Homo sapiens: one gene and its partners. The protein of the gene in region 4 purifies or fractionates together with the protein of the main gene of each other region. This does not show direct contact. Each region holds a gene or a part of one and is shown on either strand. Other genes may lie near its edges.

The links.
Region 1: the proteins of FLG (region 4) and DSG1 purify together in Homo sapiens (affinity purification with mass spectrometry, with the first as the bait; one large-scale study listed by BioGRID). This does not show direct contact.
Region 2: the proteins of FLG (region 4) and BLMH purify together in Homo sapiens (affinity purification with mass spectrometry, with the first as the bait; one large-scale study listed by BioGRID). This does not show direct contact.
Region 3: the proteins of FLG (region 4) and SERPINB12 fractionate together in Homo sapiens (co-fractionation; one large-scale study listed by BioGRID). This does not show direct contact.
Region 5: the proteins of FLG (region 4) and ARMC9 purify together in Homo sapiens (co-immunoprecipitation; one large-scale study listed by IntAct). This does not show direct contact.

Annotation. Positions count from the first base shown.
Region 1 is NC_000018.10:31,321,146-31,324,665, forward strand, and holds part of DSG1 (desmoglein-1 preproprotein), read left to right. Parts: intron 1-3,520. UniProt on the Homo sapiens protein: Component of intercellular desmosome junctions. Involved in the interaction of plaque proteins and intermediate filaments mediating cell-cell adhesion.
Region 2 is NC_000017.11:30,267,925-30,271,444, reverse strand, and holds part of BLMH (bleomycin hydrolase), read left to right. Parts: intron 1-56; coding exon 57-174; intron 175-3,520. UniProt on the Homo sapiens protein: The normal physiological role of BLM hydrolase is unknown, but it catalyzes the inactivation of the antitumor drug BLM (a glycopeptide) by hydrolyzing the carboxamide bond of its B-aminoalaninamide moiety thus protecting normal and malignant cells from BLM toxicity.
Region 3 is NC_000018.10:63,566,361-63,569,841, reverse strand, and holds the end of SERPINB12 (serpin B12), read right to left. Parts: intron 3,236-3,481; coding exon 2,831-3,235; 3' UTR 513-2,830; downstream 1-512. UniProt on the Homo sapiens protein: Inhibits trypsin and plasmin, but not thrombin, coagulation factor Xa, or urokinase-type plasminogen activator. May play a role in cell differentiation.
Region 4 is NC_000001.11:152,301,657-152,304,964, forward strand, and holds the end of FLG (filaggrin), read right to left. Parts: coding exon 1,044-3,308; 3' UTR 509-1,043; downstream 1-508.
Region 5 is NC_000002.12:231,355,625-231,359,144, reverse strand, and holds part of ARMC9 (lisH domain-containing protein ARMC9), read right to left. Parts: intron 3,348-3,520; coding exon 3,211-3,347; intron 1-3,210. UniProt on the Homo sapiens protein: Involved in ciliogenesis. It is required for appropriate acetylation and polyglutamylation of ciliary microtubules, and regulation of cilium length. Acts as a positive regulator of hedgehog (Hh)signaling.

The DNA of each region.
Region 1 (3,520 bases), on a different chromosome or scaffold from region 4:
CTCCACAGTTTGAACCGAACTGAAATTCTGTAAAATATGAGCAGGAGTTTTTAAGAGTACTTTCATCACTCAGGCTAAAATACACAGAAAATAATACACATTTCATTACATAGTTCCTAAACTTACTTGAAGACATCTTAAGTCCCCAAAATTGTGTTCACAGATGCCTAAAGCAAGAGAAGAACTAACAAATTAGTACAGACCAAACAGAAGACAAGCAAAAGAGAGAGCTCTTTGTGCTTTCTTGAGCGTGTATTATAGTGATATGTAGTATAGAGATCAGTGTTTCAGTAAAATATTTTGTAGAAAATGGAAGGAATATTTCTGTTCACGTATTCAGTGAAACTTACAAATTGCATTCAAGTGTCATCATTAACAGTTATATGGTGTTCATAAAAGCTTTATTATTTCGCTGTAGATTTAGGATTAGCATCTTCTATCACCTTTACAGAAACAAGGAGTACACATTTATCATCGCTCAATTGGTTTGAGTTGCCACAAAGTAAAAACATTTTGTCATCCCTGTTTTAGGAAAAGAGTAGAAACTAAAGCACTGAAGAATGCTGTCTTAAATCTGAAAGGCTGACCCTAGAATAAGATTCACTTATTTAACAAATCTCATCAATCTAGAAAATTATCTTATCTATACCCAGAGCACTTAATTTCTGGTAACTCTTTCTCCACAACACATTCATCAAAGACCTGGTTGCTGAGTATCCCTGTGTCCTAATAGACATTGCCTAACATATCAGCAGGAAGCCTGCTGTGCCAGGCACCGCAATTAGATTTATAATGCTCCCTCATCTCAGGGAACACCCTTGCCCAGTGCTGGGTCATGCCACCCTTGCTGATTATGCTTGATATGCAAATTCCTTCAATAGACTTAGACAGATCAAATTTTTTTAAATGCCATTGGCTGCTGATCCATGCTCTTAATTGGTCTATGAGAATAGGCCACAGTTTTTCATACTCGTCTAATGAGAAATCATATCTCTACAAATTAATGGTTGCCTGTTGCTCTCAAAACTGCAAGACTGTAAGTTATTTGAAGGCAGGTTCTGTGTCTGATTTGCCTTTGTATCCCTTATGGTGCCTTGCACCAGTGCAAGATTGCTCAAAAGATGTCTAATCACACACAGCAGAGGTACCACAAGGAAGTTTCTGGATAGTTTATACAGCTCTTCCCCCACACACTCCAAAAAATTATCACGCTATTAAACATAGAAATAATAATACTGGATTTCCCCAACATTTTAATGGTGTAGTATTAAATTCATTTTACATTTCACCTGAGACTTACTATAATATTTTCAGGCCTTTAAAAGTCTTAATCTAGTGTTGGATCCACATAATACACATTCAGTATGTACTTGTAAAATACACAAACGAAAAGAATAAATTAGAGAATTCAACCCATTAAGGTGCTGTCAACCTCAGACTGATACCCTTTGTCAGAGCAGTACAAAGGAAAGATAAGAGGAGGTTTTTAAATAAAGCAAATTGTGATATTTTAGCTTTGTTTCAAGTGCATCCTTGCGATGTATATAAAAGTTAACAATTACATTAGAATTGAATGCTTAACAAAAACGTAACAATTATGTTAGAATTCAACGCTTAGCAAAAAGTGACTTGGAAGACCATCTCACAATTATTAAATGCAAGAGATTTTTTAAATAAAAATAGCTTGTTACTCTCAAACCCATTTTTATTATGTGCAAGGAAGCATGAACTTCAATATTAAAAAGGAAAACATTAAAAATTACTGTAATTGGGGATTTATTAAAATTAGCCTGTGATTTTGTCTCCTGTAGCTTTTAAAAAGTACATAAATGGATTGGTTCCTAAAACAGAAATGAAGGGGAAACTCATTGAGGATGTATTTCAGGTGAATTATTTACTGTTTTCATAGAATTTTAGGACTAGAGGGGACTTTTAGTCTCATATACAGCTGAGGAAACTGAGCACAGATTGATTTAATGACTTACCCCAAAGTCCCTATCCACTGGGCAAAACAGCTGAGATATACTCAGTCAGCCTGATAACCTCTGTGTTCATCTCTAGGTAAATCTCCATCACAGCCTCCATAGCACAGACTCCAAACTCATTTGGGAATCCAAACTTCTCCCCTAATTGTCAGAAAATAACCTCACCCTTACTCCAGGGACAAGGTCTAGGTCATTTAGGAGAGTGTCCTCCAATTTCCCTTCCCCAGTTTATTGATTTTAATCTCCATCCACCTCACCCTTACTCCAGGGACAAAGTCTAGGTCATTTAGTACAATGTCTTCCAATTTCCCTTTCCTAATTGATCGATTTTAATCTCTATCTTTCCTTGCCTTTGTCTTTGAGGTCCTTTCTTTTTCTGCCCATTCTCTCCTGCTCTCCCTATCACAACACTTCTATGAGAATCTTCCTGCTGAACATCTCTTCTTTTAAATCAAAATCTCCTCCTAGCTTCTATCTTAACTTTCAAAAATCCTTAGGTTACCCTCTCTCAAAAAAAAATGCTACTATCTTGTCCCTCTGTTCCCTTTTATCACCAATGTCTTGAAAAAGTGACCATCTTTATGTCCTCCTCTCCTCCTCTCATTTCCTAATCCCTTGCTGTCAAGCAAGTGCATGTTCCATCCAGCTAAAAATATTCTCTTGAAGGTCCCTCAGAACCTCAGGATTTCCTCAGAATTCACTCTGCTCAACTTTTTTACCTCATCTCTTTCAACCCCATCTGTCTTTCCGTTTTCCTTTTCCTCTGACCTCCATTATAATGCATTATATTTTCCTATTGTTTCTTTCGCCATTCCTTCTCTCTTTCGCCACTCCTTCTCTCCTTCCTTTTTTTTTTTTTTTTTTTTTTCTTTTTTTGAGACAAAGTCTTGCTCTGTCCCCAGGAGTGCAGTGGTGCAATCTCGGCTCACTGCAACCTCCGCCTCCTGGGTTCCATTGATTCTCCTGCCTCAGCCTCCCAAGTAGCTGGGACTACAGGCACGCACCACGACGCCCAGCTAATTTTTGTATTTTTAGTGGAGACGGGGTTTCACCATGTTGGCCAGGATGTTCTCAGTCTCCTGACCTCGTGATCCACCCGCCTCGGCCTCCCAAAGTGCTGGGATTACAGGCGTGAGCCACAGCGCCCGGCCCTCTCCTTCCTTTTTTTTTTTTTTGTTTGTTTGTTGTCGTTGTTCCTAGTTCTATAAATGTAGGAACTCTTCTAGTTTTATCCTCAATTGCAGGCTGATTCTTGACTGTATCCTCTACTTTGGAAATTTCAAATTCTCACGATTTCAACTATCCTGCCTGAGCAGATCTACCTCAAATCTACATATCCAGCTTGAACTTTTGCTCAAGTTTTGATCCATGTTTCCAATTGCTGATCATCTTCACCCAGGCATTATCTGGCATCTCAAACTCAATGTGTTCTAATCTGCTAAATTCTATTACTGTCTTGTTCCCAATCCCACAGTTTAAAACTGCCATCCCCTGAGCTTCCTCCCTCTCTCGAACACCCCCATCCCATTTGTTCT
Region 2 (3,520 bases), on a different chromosome or scaffold from region 4:
GCCAGTTTTCCCCATGATCGTACTCCCTTTATTTTGTACTATCATTCTTTTTACAGCTATGACCATGAGTTAGTGTTTGGTGTCTCCTTGAAGAACATGAATAAAGCGGAGAGGCTGACTTTTGGTGAGTCACTTATGACCCACGCCATGACCTTCACTGCTGTCTCAGAGAAGGTATGACCCTCAGCATGCCTGCTGGAGTGTTTGCACAGATGGATCTACATTCTCCTGTAGACTGTTTACCCAACAAAGCTTCATTCATAGTGTATATGATTTCTGTTAAAAGTTAGTTTCCAAGTAAGACATCGTACCTGCGTCACTTGGGGCTTGGCTGCGTGCTTAGAGGTAATATAAAAATAGGAACTTTCTATGAGGAGAATTTGGGTCAGCAGGGAGCGACCAAGTAACTGTTTCTGTAACTTTGGAAGGTCATGGTTTAAAGAGAAGTCAGCAAGGGAACTTGAGAGAAGATAACTTCTACTTTATAAGGAATCAAAATGTGCCCTGAAAGTGTTCATATCTTGATGACCTATGTTCAGATTTCCCTTCATTTGTCATTCAGATTCTTTTGCAGTAAAATGTCAATAACAGTAATTTGTGGACTCCATACCCATTTCTAGTTATATGCAGAGCTTCAGGAAATTGGATGTAAAGTATTTTGAATTTCCTGTGAAATAGTGTGTATAGTAATACCACTTTTTATAGGTTATAGAGTTGGAAACAACTGAAATTTTATCTTTCACAAATAAACTCCTCACTTCCAGTCAGTAAAAATAGATATTTTCACCTCTGTGCTCAGGATCATCAGGAAGGAAGAACTTGAACTACTTTAATTCTTTACCACCACAAGCAAAAATATTCTTTCTAGCCTAATTCCTGGAAAGTCACAGAATAACTACCTTATATAAATTGTTCTAGAAAATCATTTTTTTTTTTTTTTTTTGAGATGGAGTCTCACTCTGTCATCCAGGCAGGAGTGCTGTAGTGTGATCTCAGCTCACTGCAACCTCCACCTCTGGGGCTCAAAAGATTCTCCTGCCTCAGCCTTGCGAGTAGCTGGGATTACAAGTGCCCGCCAACACACCCAGCTGATTTTTTTGTATTTTTAGTAGAAGTGGGGTTTTGCCATGTTGGCCAGGCTGGTCTCGAACTCCTGACCTCAGGTGATCTGCCCGCCTCAGCTTCCCAAAGTGCTGGGATTACAGGCATGAGCCACCGCACCCAGCTAGAAAATGGTTTGATAGAGAATTGTTTTTGCTATCCTATCCACTAGATTTATGATCTTTAAAATGTTTAGAAATATCTTAGCATATCATTATGCCACATTTTCCTAACTAGCCTATCTAAAAGTCCTGATTTGCTTTTTATACTCTATGCAGAATTGTGAGTGGGATGGGGTTTTCTTTCTGTACCTTTTTCTCACCTCTTCCAACTACTTCACTTGAAGGGTGCCCTTTCAACCCCACAGCATCTAAGATCCCTGTGCTCTCTCTGTATTCAAAACTTGGTCTTAAAGGTTTAATTACATTCCTGCAAATTATAAGGCTAGTGCTTTAAGTAGTAGAACTCTGAGGTATTCTCAGTTTTATATGAGATCAAACACAGTATGGTGTAAAGGTGCCCTGAACTTAAGAGGCAGTCTTAATGCTGATACTCCTGATCCTCATGTAGTTTTCATAAATAAATGTAAAGGTTGAGGTCTTGTAAACCAGCGAGCTGTTTTCCTCATTATTCCATTCGTCAGTAATCTCAGCTCTGTAGTTAGCGAGACTCCCACACCAAGAAACAGGTTTTTAGGGTTACCCAGGAGAATGTGTGGAGTATAATTTGCATTACTTATGTAGATCAAGAAAAGTCATTTTAAAACAGCAAAAGGTGATTTAAGTGTTATCACCCCAATTTAACAAAATTCTCACATTTGAATTATAAACAAAACATAAAGTTAGGTTATAAAAGGAATTTTAGACCGGGTGCAGTGACTCACACCTGAAATCCCAGCACTTTGGGAGGCTGAGGCGGGAGGATCACCTGAGGTCAGGAGTTCAGGACTAGCCTGACCGACATGGCGAGACCCTGTCTCCACTAAAAATACAAAAATTAGCTGGGCATGGTGGCGTGCACCTGTAATTCCAGCAGCTACTCTGGAGGCTGAGGCAGGAGAATCCTTTGAACCCGGGAAGCGGAGGTTGCAGTGAGACAAGATTGCACCACTGCACTCCAGCCTGGGTGACAGAGCAAGACTCTGTCTCAAAAAAAAAAAAAAACAATAAATAAATAAATAAAATACATGAAAAGGTTTTTCAAATAAGGGTGCTTTATAACTAAACTAAAGTTCTTTAAATAAATTTTTAAACTATATAGAGTTCTGTTTTGTGTTTTTTTGTTGTTGTTTTTTTGTTTTTTTTGAGACTGAGTCTTGCTCTGTCGCCCAGGCTGGAGTGCAGTGGCACAATCTCAGCTCACTGCAACCTCCACCTCCTGGGTTCAAGCTATTCTCCTGCCTCAGCCTCCTGAGTGCAGGCGTGCACCATCGGCCTGGCTAATTTTTTTTTTTTTTTTTTTGTATTTTTAGTAGAGATAGGGTTTCGCCATGTTGGCCAGGCTGGTCTTGAACTCCTGACCTCAAGCAATCCACCTGCTTCGGCCTCCCAAAGTGCTGGGATTACAGGCATGAGCCACTGTGCCCAGCCGAGAATTTGTTTTGTTTGTTTGTTTGTTTTTAAAAAAACAAACAAACAAAAACTTGTAATTTCCAAGAAAAATTCAGCTTTTTATCATTTCTATCTCTGTTATAGAATACTCCTATTTTTCAGGAATAAAAATAATGAATACCACTGTCATTTTCTTGGGAACTTCCATTCTTTGATTAGCATGGGTTGTTTCCTTAGGAAAATGGAGCTACCTTACATGCTAATGGTATAAAGCAGAATTTATATTATTATACCTGGAATTTTATATTGAACATTTTCTCTTCATTCCACTAGAGTTTTTGATCCCAAAAACGAGTTTGAACTACACTTGAGTAATAGTACAGAGGTAAATGCATACTAGTGGTTATATTTCCACAATTTTCTTTCTTTTGTTGCTGATATCATGGAATCCCTATAAGGGAGTTCCAGGTATTAATCATTTTGTAATTGTAGATGACCCAGAGAACAATTTGATCTAGGTCACTCCAGGAATTCATTGGCCAAGGGGAAAACATAGGAAACATTTTCAGACTTAGAGTAACAAGTAACTATATCACTTTAGGTGACATCGATTCTAACAGTGATATTTAAAAGGAAAGTAAAGTTGGACTACAGTGGGAGGAATAGAAAACCAAAACAGACATATAATATGCCAGCTGCAGAATGTATAGTATATAACGATATGGTTTTAAAGGATTTGGGGGCAAAGAGTAAGGATTAGTACAGGTAAGGGTGTGTGAAACTTGTGAGTTTGTTGGCGCTATTTGTGAGACAGAAAATTACTGAGATCCAAGAAAACTGCCAAGAGTGGAGTGTTTGGGTTAGCAGAG
Region 3 (3,481 bases), on a different chromosome or scaffold from region 4:
GATCACTTGAAGTCAGGAGTTCAGGACCAGCCTGGCCAACATGGTGAAACCCCCTCTCTACTAAAAATACAAAAATTAGCTGGGCGTGGTGGCGGGCGCCTGTAATCCCGCTACTCAGCAGGCTGAGGCTTAAGAATCACTTGAACCCAGGAGGCAGAGGTTGCAGTAAGCCAAGATTGCACCACTGCACTCCAGCCTGGGCAACAGTGCAAGACTACATCTCAAACAAAAAAAAAAGAAAAACCTGTAGTCGGCAGAAATGTCTTCTATATTCTGATGATCAGCTGGCTATCACTCTGGTTTTAGCATTGTCAGTTTTCATCTTTTTTATATGCCTTCATATGTAATTATGATGGAAAGCTGGGAGAAACTATTACTGGGGCAAGATGTATTTTTCCTGTGTAACTGAGATGAATTGTTAGTTTCATAGATTATGTATTTTTATATTTTTGGATGAAACAGTTTGAAGTTAAATTTATATCCCTAAAAAAATCAGTTGGCAACACATCGTATATATTTTAACTAATAACAAAAGTGCTTTATTCATTCAGAAGAAACTTCTTAATAAATCAAAGGTTAGTAAAGAATGTTTACTGATTTACATAAAGATTTAAGATTCTTAATTTTCCTCATTATTGTAAATAGATACATTCTCCCTCTCATGCTTCAAAATCTGAGAAATCCCGATGTAAATGAAAAAAAAATGTGTTTACCAAGTAAAAGAATAAGAACAAAAGAAATGCCGGGCAGTGCAGGCCTATATATAGGTCATGGTTTCCAGCTACGTGTCGGGCAGTGGTGCCAAGTCAGACATGGAAACAGCCCCCAAAACGTCAACCCCAAAAGGAACCACAGGGGACATGAAGTTTTTGGTTATCTGAAATTAATTTGACCCATGGGACATGCATTCTGGATAGGGCACTGCCTCAAACTGCCTCACGTTACCAACGTCAAATTGTTTTAGGTCGTAAGTGAGCTTCAACAATGAGAAGGTTGTATGGAGAACATGGAACTTGTCTCTCAGAGCACAAAGAAATCACTGGGGTAGGTGAGAAAAGGAAGAGGAGGCTAGCATGGGAGCAGGTGTGGTTCACCTGCCTTCTGCAAAAAAACTGCGTGGCCACACTGAACGACTGGTGGCAGCTGGGAGGAGGACAGCCACAAGGTGGGCCAAGGAAACTGAGCCGCAAGCAAGACCTGAAACCCACCTCGATAGGAAAGAGACTGACTCCAAAGAGATGTGAGTTGGACGTGTCAGTGGTCATGGCAGAACATTCAGCTAAGATAGAAATTAGGAACTCAGATTACCACACCAGAGAACAGAGGCCCTGAGTCCGCGAGTAGGAACACTCAGAGGTCAGGCCTTCAGTAGACTAGAGCTTGAGATGAGCCCAATGGCCTTCTTGACAAGGGTTTCAGGTTTTGTTTTGGCTTTTTGGGTTTTTTGTTTGTTTGTTTTTTGAGACAGGGTTTCGCTCTGTCACCCAGGCTGGAGTGCAGTGGCGCCATCTCAGCTTACTGCAGCCTCCATCCCCTGGGTTCAAGTGATCTTCCCACCTCAGCCTCCCGAGTAGCTGGGACTATAGGTGCACACCACCACGCCCGGCTAATTTCTGTATTTTTTGTAGAGTCAGGGTCTCAATATGTTGCCCAGGCTGGTCTCGAACTCCTGGACTCAAGTGATCCACCTGACTCGGCCTCCCAAGAAGTGCTGGGATTGCAGGCATGAGCCATCATGCCCAGCCAACAAGCATTGCTATGGACACCATGCCCAGGCTCAAGCCTGTTGTCACCATGTGGTCTGGCATGAGACCTCTCGGAAGACACAAAAGTCCACGTGGCCAGAAGGCAGAGAGAGGGGCACACGGAGGCCAGCCTCCACGTGGCCAGAAGGCAGAGAGAGGGGCACACAGAGGCCAGCCTCCACGTGGCCAGAAGGCAGAGAGAGGGGCATACGGAGGCCAGCCGTCCACAATGCCAGCAGCACTTCTCTTGACACCTGCCTGTGCTGGGTGCATAAAAGGAGCTAGCCACAGGTGGGAATTCTTGGAGCTAGGGGGAGGAGAGACAGAGGGAAGTGTTTGATGATAATGTTGGGGGACTCAATAAGGAAAACTGAGATAAACCTCCTCTAAATCCACTAGCCACTTTCCTGGGTCAGTGTCAAAATCACAAGACAAATATCATTCCCCTGCTCTGTGCAAAATGAGTGCTGGTTGGGGCAGTCACACATCTTTGAGCTATCACTTAAATACGCCCAAGCCCTGCCTTGTCCTAGGTGAAAAGACCTCACAGGACATCTTCCATGCAGTAGCTGTCAAAGGAAGAAACAGGGCATCTCGCCCAGTGATGACCACAATCATAACTATCCCAGAAACAGAGCTGAGTTTCCAAACACGTTCCGGTCAAACTACCCCAGAAACAGAGCTGAGTTTCCAAACACGTTCCAGTCAAACATGTTCTCTTGCTGCCCATGTTAAAGTGGCTTCTGAGTTTGCCATCTCTTAGAAATGGTCTAATGACCTGAACTTTTAGGATTCCTTCAAAAGGAGGTAGGTACTGTTCTGAATTGTGTTGACCTTCAGGTCACAGAGGGTGAATTTATATGCTTGAAAGTTTAGGGTAGAGAACAACAGCCCTTCAATACTAACAGACTCAGATGAAAATAAGCTACAGGGTGACAGAAAGATCAAGATAAGCACAAGCCGATGGCTGGAGGATGAAGGAGATGCTTTAGATATTACCAAAAACTCAAATGCCCATCTTATGCCAGGGGAAGATTGTATTGATATTTTCCTCCAGCTCCAAAGTACTAGACACTGCTCCCCTTTTAAGGAGAGCAGACCCTGCCATAAAAGAGAATGGTTTGGGTTTTGTTGTGTCTAATGAAAAAGAGAAAAGGGTGGTTGGCATTAAACTCCACCCAAGATCGTAGTGACCTTTCCGAGACAACAGCCCCAGTGGCTGCAGCTGCCTGGGTACCGTTTTCATCCACCTCCACAAAGGTTTTGTGGATAATTTTTGACAAGTACAAATTGGGACTTGGAGAGATTCCAGTAAGATCAGCCCTCGTTTCATCAAAGATATCCGTAATGCCCATGTCTTGTAAAATGGAATTGAGATCATAGCTGTCTTCCAGGGTGAACCGGGGGAAGGACAGGACCACCGATTCTTCTGACATGTTTTCTGAGCTGCTCCAGGCCACCATTTTTTCATAGGTGATTTTCCTTTCAAGCTACAAGAGGAAGGAAATAATATTTAGCATCAGATTATGGGACCACAAAGAATGCCCCAATTACTTCAAGGTGCCTGAGTCCCTTTCAGTGGGCAGTGACAACCTTCAAGACCTTTCCCTAAGCTAGAGAATAGTCTGATTTCATTTAAAACTTCAAGCAAATATCTTTCCTCTTTAGAAGAAGTTAGGGGACAACTCAGGTTCCAGTGTGCTCTGGTGTTTGAGAGACAAGTGTTCAAAGCACAG
Region 4 (3,308 bases):
TTCAGCATTTTCATCTACTTGCTTAAATTACAAAGATACAAATATTTTCCTTCCAGGTCAGGAGGACACTTCTTTTTAATTCTTTTCCCTTTTTCAGGATATATCAGCACAACTTCTCTGCTCCAACTAGTCTACATTGCAAAGCATCTCCTAGTGTCTTTGGAAGAAGGATCTATGGTCAGTAATTCCTGTTTCGTGATCTGCCTTTGACATGGCTTAATCACCACCTAAGTTGATAATTCCATATTAATAATAGTGATATTCATGATTGAGCAGAGCATGTTTTTTTTTTTCCTGCATGTGATTGTGGGACAGTGATTATGTTGGAGAAAAATATAGGCCTTGATTAAATTTTGTCTTTCATTATTAATTACTTGTTATTTTGAATGTAATGTATCTGCTTTATGGTCATATAGCTTTCCAATGATATAGAAGACATCTAATTCTGGCCATGGGGAAGTATGTAATTTGTGTTTATGACAAATAAGAATACAAGAGACAAACAGTATTATATGATGAATAGTTTATTTTTAATTTAGATGCAGCTTACTATAATATTAATTATGTCCAAGATGATTTTTTGAATACAGAATACTAGAATTCCAATAGAAGGATAATAGAGAAAGATGTGCTAGCCCTGATGTTGATATAGCCACTTTGGTATACAGAACTGTTTTATATTTTTGGCTCCTTCGATATTTCTGAAAAAGATTAATTTAGAAATTTGGGGAGTGTCTAAAACTTAAACTTTCAAAAACATAAAACATTACTTGACCCAGAATCTCCTAAAATACTCCAGCTAGTTTTCTAAAGTTAGCTCTCCATGATATTGATTTCTTCCATTTAATATTTCTGAAATATAGCGTTTAAAGATCATTACACAATAAAAATAAGCTACCACCAAACTAATGAAATACTATAGCATATTTTAAACAGATTGACAGGAAAAGATAACTTCCCTGAAAGTATTATGAAGTTTCTTGATTGAAAGTGAACTTGCTTCATTCTTCTATTCTTGGATTAATTCCTTTGCCATTAATTTCTTACTCATAGTAATAGTATCTCTGTGACTGACTAAATCCCAGTTGTTTCGATATATCACTAGAATGGCCACATAAACCTGGGTCCTTATTAATATACGTTGCATAATACCTTGGATGATCTTTACCAAACGCACTTGCTTTACAGATATCAGATCTTTCCTTGAAAACAACAGGATTGGAATTGTAACTAACACTTCCGTGCTGAGAGTGTCTAAACCCGGATTCACCATAATCATAATCTGCACTACCATAGCTGCCATGTCTCCAAACTAAACCTGATTGACCTTTTTGCCTTTCAGTGCCCTCAGATTGATAATGATAAGAACTAGAACTGTGAGGACTGCCACGTGACTGTATTCCTGAGTGATACGCAGAATCTTGTGAAAGACTACTAAAGTGACCATGTTCCTTAGCGGTACTAGAGTCTGACTGTACAGGTGAAGACTGTACATGACTGGCTGTATCGCGGTGAGAGGATCCGGGGTGTCTGGAGCCATCTCTTGACTGCTCCCGAGAAGATCCATGATGGTTTCTGGAAGCAGACTCAGATCGCCTCTCAGAGTCCTCTGGGTATGCCTCACTGTCACTGTCCTGGCTAACACTGGATCCCTGGCGCCTGCTTCTCCTGGACCCCGCTGATTCACCCTGGCCGGACTGTGAGTGTCTAGAGCTGTCAGCCTGAGTGGAAGCTTCATGGTGACGCGACCCTGAGTGCCTGGAGCCGTCTCCTGACTGTTCCTCATTACGTGTTTCTCTGCTTGCACTTCTGGATCCTGACTGCCCATGGGAGGCATCAGACCTTCCCTGGGATGTGGTGTGGCTGTGATGGGACCCTGAGTGTCCAGACCTATCTACCGATTGCTCGTGGTAGGATCCCTGTCTTCCTCCTCTCCTTGACCCCGGGTGTCCACGAATGGTGTCCTGACCCTCTTGGGACGCTGAGTGCCTGGAGCTGTCTCGTGCCTGCTCGTGGCGGGATCCTTGTCTTCCTCCAGTACTGGGCCCAGCCCGTCCATGGGCAGACTCAGACTGTTCATGAGTGCTCACCTGGTAGAGGAAAGACCCTGAACGTCCAGACCTTCCTGCTGACCGGCCACGTGTGGACTCTTGGTGGCTCTGCTGATGGGGCCCAGCCTGTCCGTGGGCTGACACTGACTGTGTGTCTGAGTCTTCTGAATGTCCCTCACTGTCACTGGCCTGACTACCACTGGACCCTCGGTGTCCACTGTCTCTGACTGCAGATGAAGCTTGTCCGTGCCCAATGCCTGAGTGTCTGGAGCTGTCTGCTGACTGCTGGTGGTGGGATCCATGTCTCTCTCCTGCACTTGATCTTGCCTGTTCATGGGATGATGCAGCCTGTCCACCAGAGGAATTCTCTGCATGATGAGTGCCTGATTGTCTGGAGCTCTCTGCAGAGTGCCCGTGACCGGCTCTGTCTTCGTGATGGGACGTGGGGTGTCTGGAGCCATCTCTTGACTGCTCCTGAGCAGATCCACGATGGTTTCTGGAAGCAGACCCAGACCACCTCTCAGAGTCTTCTGAGTGTCCCTGACTGTCACTGTCCTGGCTAACACTGGATCCCTGGTTCCTGCTTGTCCTGGGCCCCGCTGATTGTCCCTGGCCGGACTGTGAGTGTCTAGAGCTGTCCGCCTGAGTGGAAGCTTCATGGTGATGCGACCATGAGTGCCTGGAGCCATCTCCTGATTGTTCGTCATTACGAGTTTGTCTGCTGGCACTTCTGGATCCTGACTGCCCACGGGAGGCATCAGACCTTCCCTGGGATGTGGTGTGGCTGTGATGGGACCCTGAGTGTCCAGACCTATCTACCGATTGCTCGTAGTGGGATCCCTGCCTTCCTCTTCTGCTTGACCCCGGGTGTCCACGAATGGTGTCCTGACCCTCTTGGGACGCTGAGTGCCTGGAGCTGTCTCGTGCCTGCTCGTGGTGGGATCCTTGTCTTCGTCCAGTGCTGGTCCTGGTCCGCCCATGGGCAGACTCAGACTGTTCATGAGTGCTCACCTGGTAGAGGAAAGACCCTGAACGTCCAGACCTTCCCCCTGACCGGTCACGTGCGGACTCTTGGTGGCTCTGCTGATGGGGCCCAGCCTGTCCATGGCCTGACACTGACTGTGTGTCTGACTCTTCTGAATGTCCCTCACTATCACTGGCCTGACTACCACTGGACCCCCAGTGTCTACTGTCTCTGACTGCAGATGAAGCTTGTCCACGCGGAATGCCTGAGTGTCTGGAGCTGTCTGCTGACTG
Region 5 (3,520 bases), on a different chromosome or scaffold from region 4:
CACTGCACTCCAGCCTGGGTGAGAGAGCGAGACTCCATCTCAAAAAAAAAAAAAAAAAAAAACAGGAGACCCCCCTAACTAAGACAGCCAGGAGCTAGGAGATGGGGCAGCCATGGGTGTGCACCGGGGTCTTCCTGGGACAGTAGTATCTCTTGCCTGCTGGTCCATTTCAGACAGGGCTGGGCATTTTAACTCCCAGGGCTATGAAGTCCCAAGGCATGTGATTTTGATATTGAAGATAGTCCTGGTTGGTGGGGAAATGAGAATAGCTTTCCTTAGGCCAACGTTCTGCAAAATGCTAAGCCATATTATTGGCCTTTTCCCTTGGGAACTATTTCCTGTTGGCATTTGGGGCTGTCTTTTGCCTAGAATGTACTTTCTGGGCCTGCACTCAACCGATCAAGCAGTTTGAGGGTCCAACAGGTTCCTCCTCATGAGTTTTCCCTGCGGTGCTGACTGAACGCAAAGCGCAAAGGCTCTTCCTCAAGAAACTCAGCGTGAAGGTGGGGGTTTCCACGGGGTCTCTGGGTGGGGCGTTAGTTCCCAGCACAGGCCAGACTCAGCAGCGAGCTGTGTGCAAGGAGACCTGTGGGGAGCGCTGCCTGGGGCCAGGATGGGCCTGGGGCAAGGTGAGTGAGAGAAGGGAAGTGGAGGGGGCCCCATGCCTGTAATCCCAGCACTTTGGGAGGCCGAGGCGGGAGGATCGCTTGAGCCCAAGGGTTCAAGACCAGCCTGGGCAGCACAGAGAGACACCTCTCTCTACAATCAATCAATCAATCAATCAATCAATCAATTGAAGTGGAGGGGAGGGATGGAGAAGCAGGACTGTCTGGAGGAAGTCAGAGCAAGCTCCTGAGCAGGGAAGGAATGAAGCAGAAGGCAACATGGCTCAGGGGTGCCCATGCCCAGCCCAGCACTGCCCACTCCCTGCTGTCCCTGCTGCTCATCCCCCTCCCCCTCATTCATACCCTGGCTTAATGGACTTAACCGCAGTCCCCCTATCTGCAAAGCCCAGATGGAGCACAGAAGCAGAGGGCTGTTTGCCATCCATCCCTTAGGCAGAGGCAGGTGACAGGACAGGGAGAGGGGCAGGGAGGCCAACTGGGGAGACGCAACAGGCCGTGGGCAGGCCTGTCTGAAAGAAGGTCAGAATGGAATCTACTCCAAGCGTGGCAAAGGCTTACTCATGACCCAGAGGAAACTGCACCTGGGGCTTGGTTTTTCCAAAGGAAGAACTTTTTGTCAAGTAAAAGGATTTTAAAGGAGACTAAGAGGGCCAGGCATGATGGCTCACGCCTGTAATCCCAGTGCTTTGGGAGGCTCAGGCAGGAGGATTACTTGAGACTAGGAGTTCAAGACCAGCCTAGGCAACAGCAAACTTCGTCTTTACAAAAAATAGAAAACCACTTTGCCTGGTATGGTGGTGCATCTGTAGTGCCAGCTACTCAGGAAGCTGATGCGGGAGGATCGCTTAGGAATGTGAGGCTGCAGTGAGCTATGACTGGCCACTGCACTCCAGCCTGGGGGACAGAGTGAGACCTTGTCTCAAAATAAAATAAAATAAAGTAAAATAAAATAAAATAAAAGGAGGACTAGGGGTGTTGGCCTGAGGCTCAGAGCGGGCCTGGCAGGGCCAGGGAGGGCAGTGACTATTCCTGGTCTCTGGCAGGTGGAGAAGGGCAGGGCTGCGTGGGTCCGTGTCCTGGGTCCCAGCCAGGCTGAGCCAATAGGAGCAGGCTTAAGGAAGGGACACTCAGAACACGGTCTCAGCATTTGGGGCAGGTTAATGGGGGCACTGACAGCGGGATTTGGGAAAAGCACTGCTCTGCCTCCAGCCGGTCCATCTGGGGGCTGGTGGGCAGCTGCTGCCTCCCTAGGAAGAAGCACTGGCAACCGCCCGTGACCACCAAGGCTGAGTGTCCTGGTGGGTGCCCACCCTGTTCATGCAAGAACCCGGAATGTGCCTGGGCCCAGACTTTGTCAGGGCTAAAGTAAACTGTTCTTGAAAACAACAATAACATCAACATTGCAGCAGCTGCTCCTTGGCCATTTCCATCCATGCCAACCTCAAGTGCCTCCGCCCTGCAGGTAACAGCATGACAGCTTCCCAAAGGCACGTCCAATCAGTGCAAAAATAAAGGGCCTCTCAGTGGTCATTTTGGTAAAGCAAGGATGTTACCGCTACGTTACCCTGAATGTACTGTGGAGCCTTTCAGGAAGTCCAGGCCTAAGAACTTGAAATGTTTTAACTCAATGGCATTCAGTCAAATTGGCAAAACTTTTCAGACGCCCCCTAAGACCTCCACCCTGGCAGCAGAAATCTCTGGATAAATTACTAAGCTGCTCACCTTTGGAGAGCATATTAATATTTACAGCTTTAGTAAAGCACATGTAAAATAACTGATGATCAACGCTGGCAAAACCTCTGAAACTGCTCATCACCAAGAGACCCAGGAGTTGCAAATAACCCAGCCAGTGCTGACTCGTCACTAGCTACCGCTCTGCACCTGGGCCTGGAAGCGTCTGAATCCAATTGTGAGCAGATGCAAGTTCTCAGATGTTTCTCAGACAGGAATCCAACCCGTTCCTCTGTTGTTTTTCCTACTCAAATGGAAATTAGAGTCTTATCTGAACTGCTCATAATCCTTTTAATTTCCTTTCAAAAATTAAAAAAAATACTTTGTACATTTCTGATTCAAAGTATATATATTTTTTCTGGCATCTAAAAAATACTTTTATCTCCCATCAGCCTCTGGTTAACTCAGCTGGAAGTTTCAAAGGCGTTTGGATCCCAGAGTTGTTTGTGCTCTTAGTTGCACATTTCTGCCTCCGTCCAGCCTTCCAGCAGGCGGCTGGCCTTCTCTGCACCAGAATCTGAGCTATCAGAATCAGGGTCACAGATCAACATCAGCCCGGCATTCCTCCTCCGAAATTTCACATTAAAGCCGGCTTTCACCAGTCAGAAATCTTGCCCCAGGAGCTCCCAGACGGGACAACAGGCAGTGCTCTGAGAAGGGGACGCAGAGGACCAGCCCAGCATGGGTCTGGCTGTGGGCTGGGAATCCCGTGAGCCTCTGTGACACGGGGCTGTTGCTGAGACCAGAGGGCTTCCCAGGAGCAGACGTGCGTCTGCCACTCCTGCTGCTGTTTTGCGTAGGTTCTAGACATCACAATCCCAGAACTGACCCAGTGTGCTGCCCACATTCTTACATGAAGAGGAGACGCAGGACTCCGGGGTGCTGGGCTTGCCCTCCCTGTAGACAGCCTCGTGAGCGGCTGGCAGGGCCTGCGGGTGGCCGTTTCTGGCGTGCTGGGCTGTCTGGGGAGGTGTGTGTTGGTCTTCCACCCTGGAGAAAAACATGAAAAACGGCAGTGAGTACAGCCAGCCAGGAGATTCGGACTGCCGACTGCCGACTGCAGCATCACAAATACAGGAGGGGGCGGTGCCTCAAAGTCTTGTTAAACCATCATTAGCATATCAGACCTTCTAAAGGGTCTTGGCAGGAGCCAGGAGGCTGAC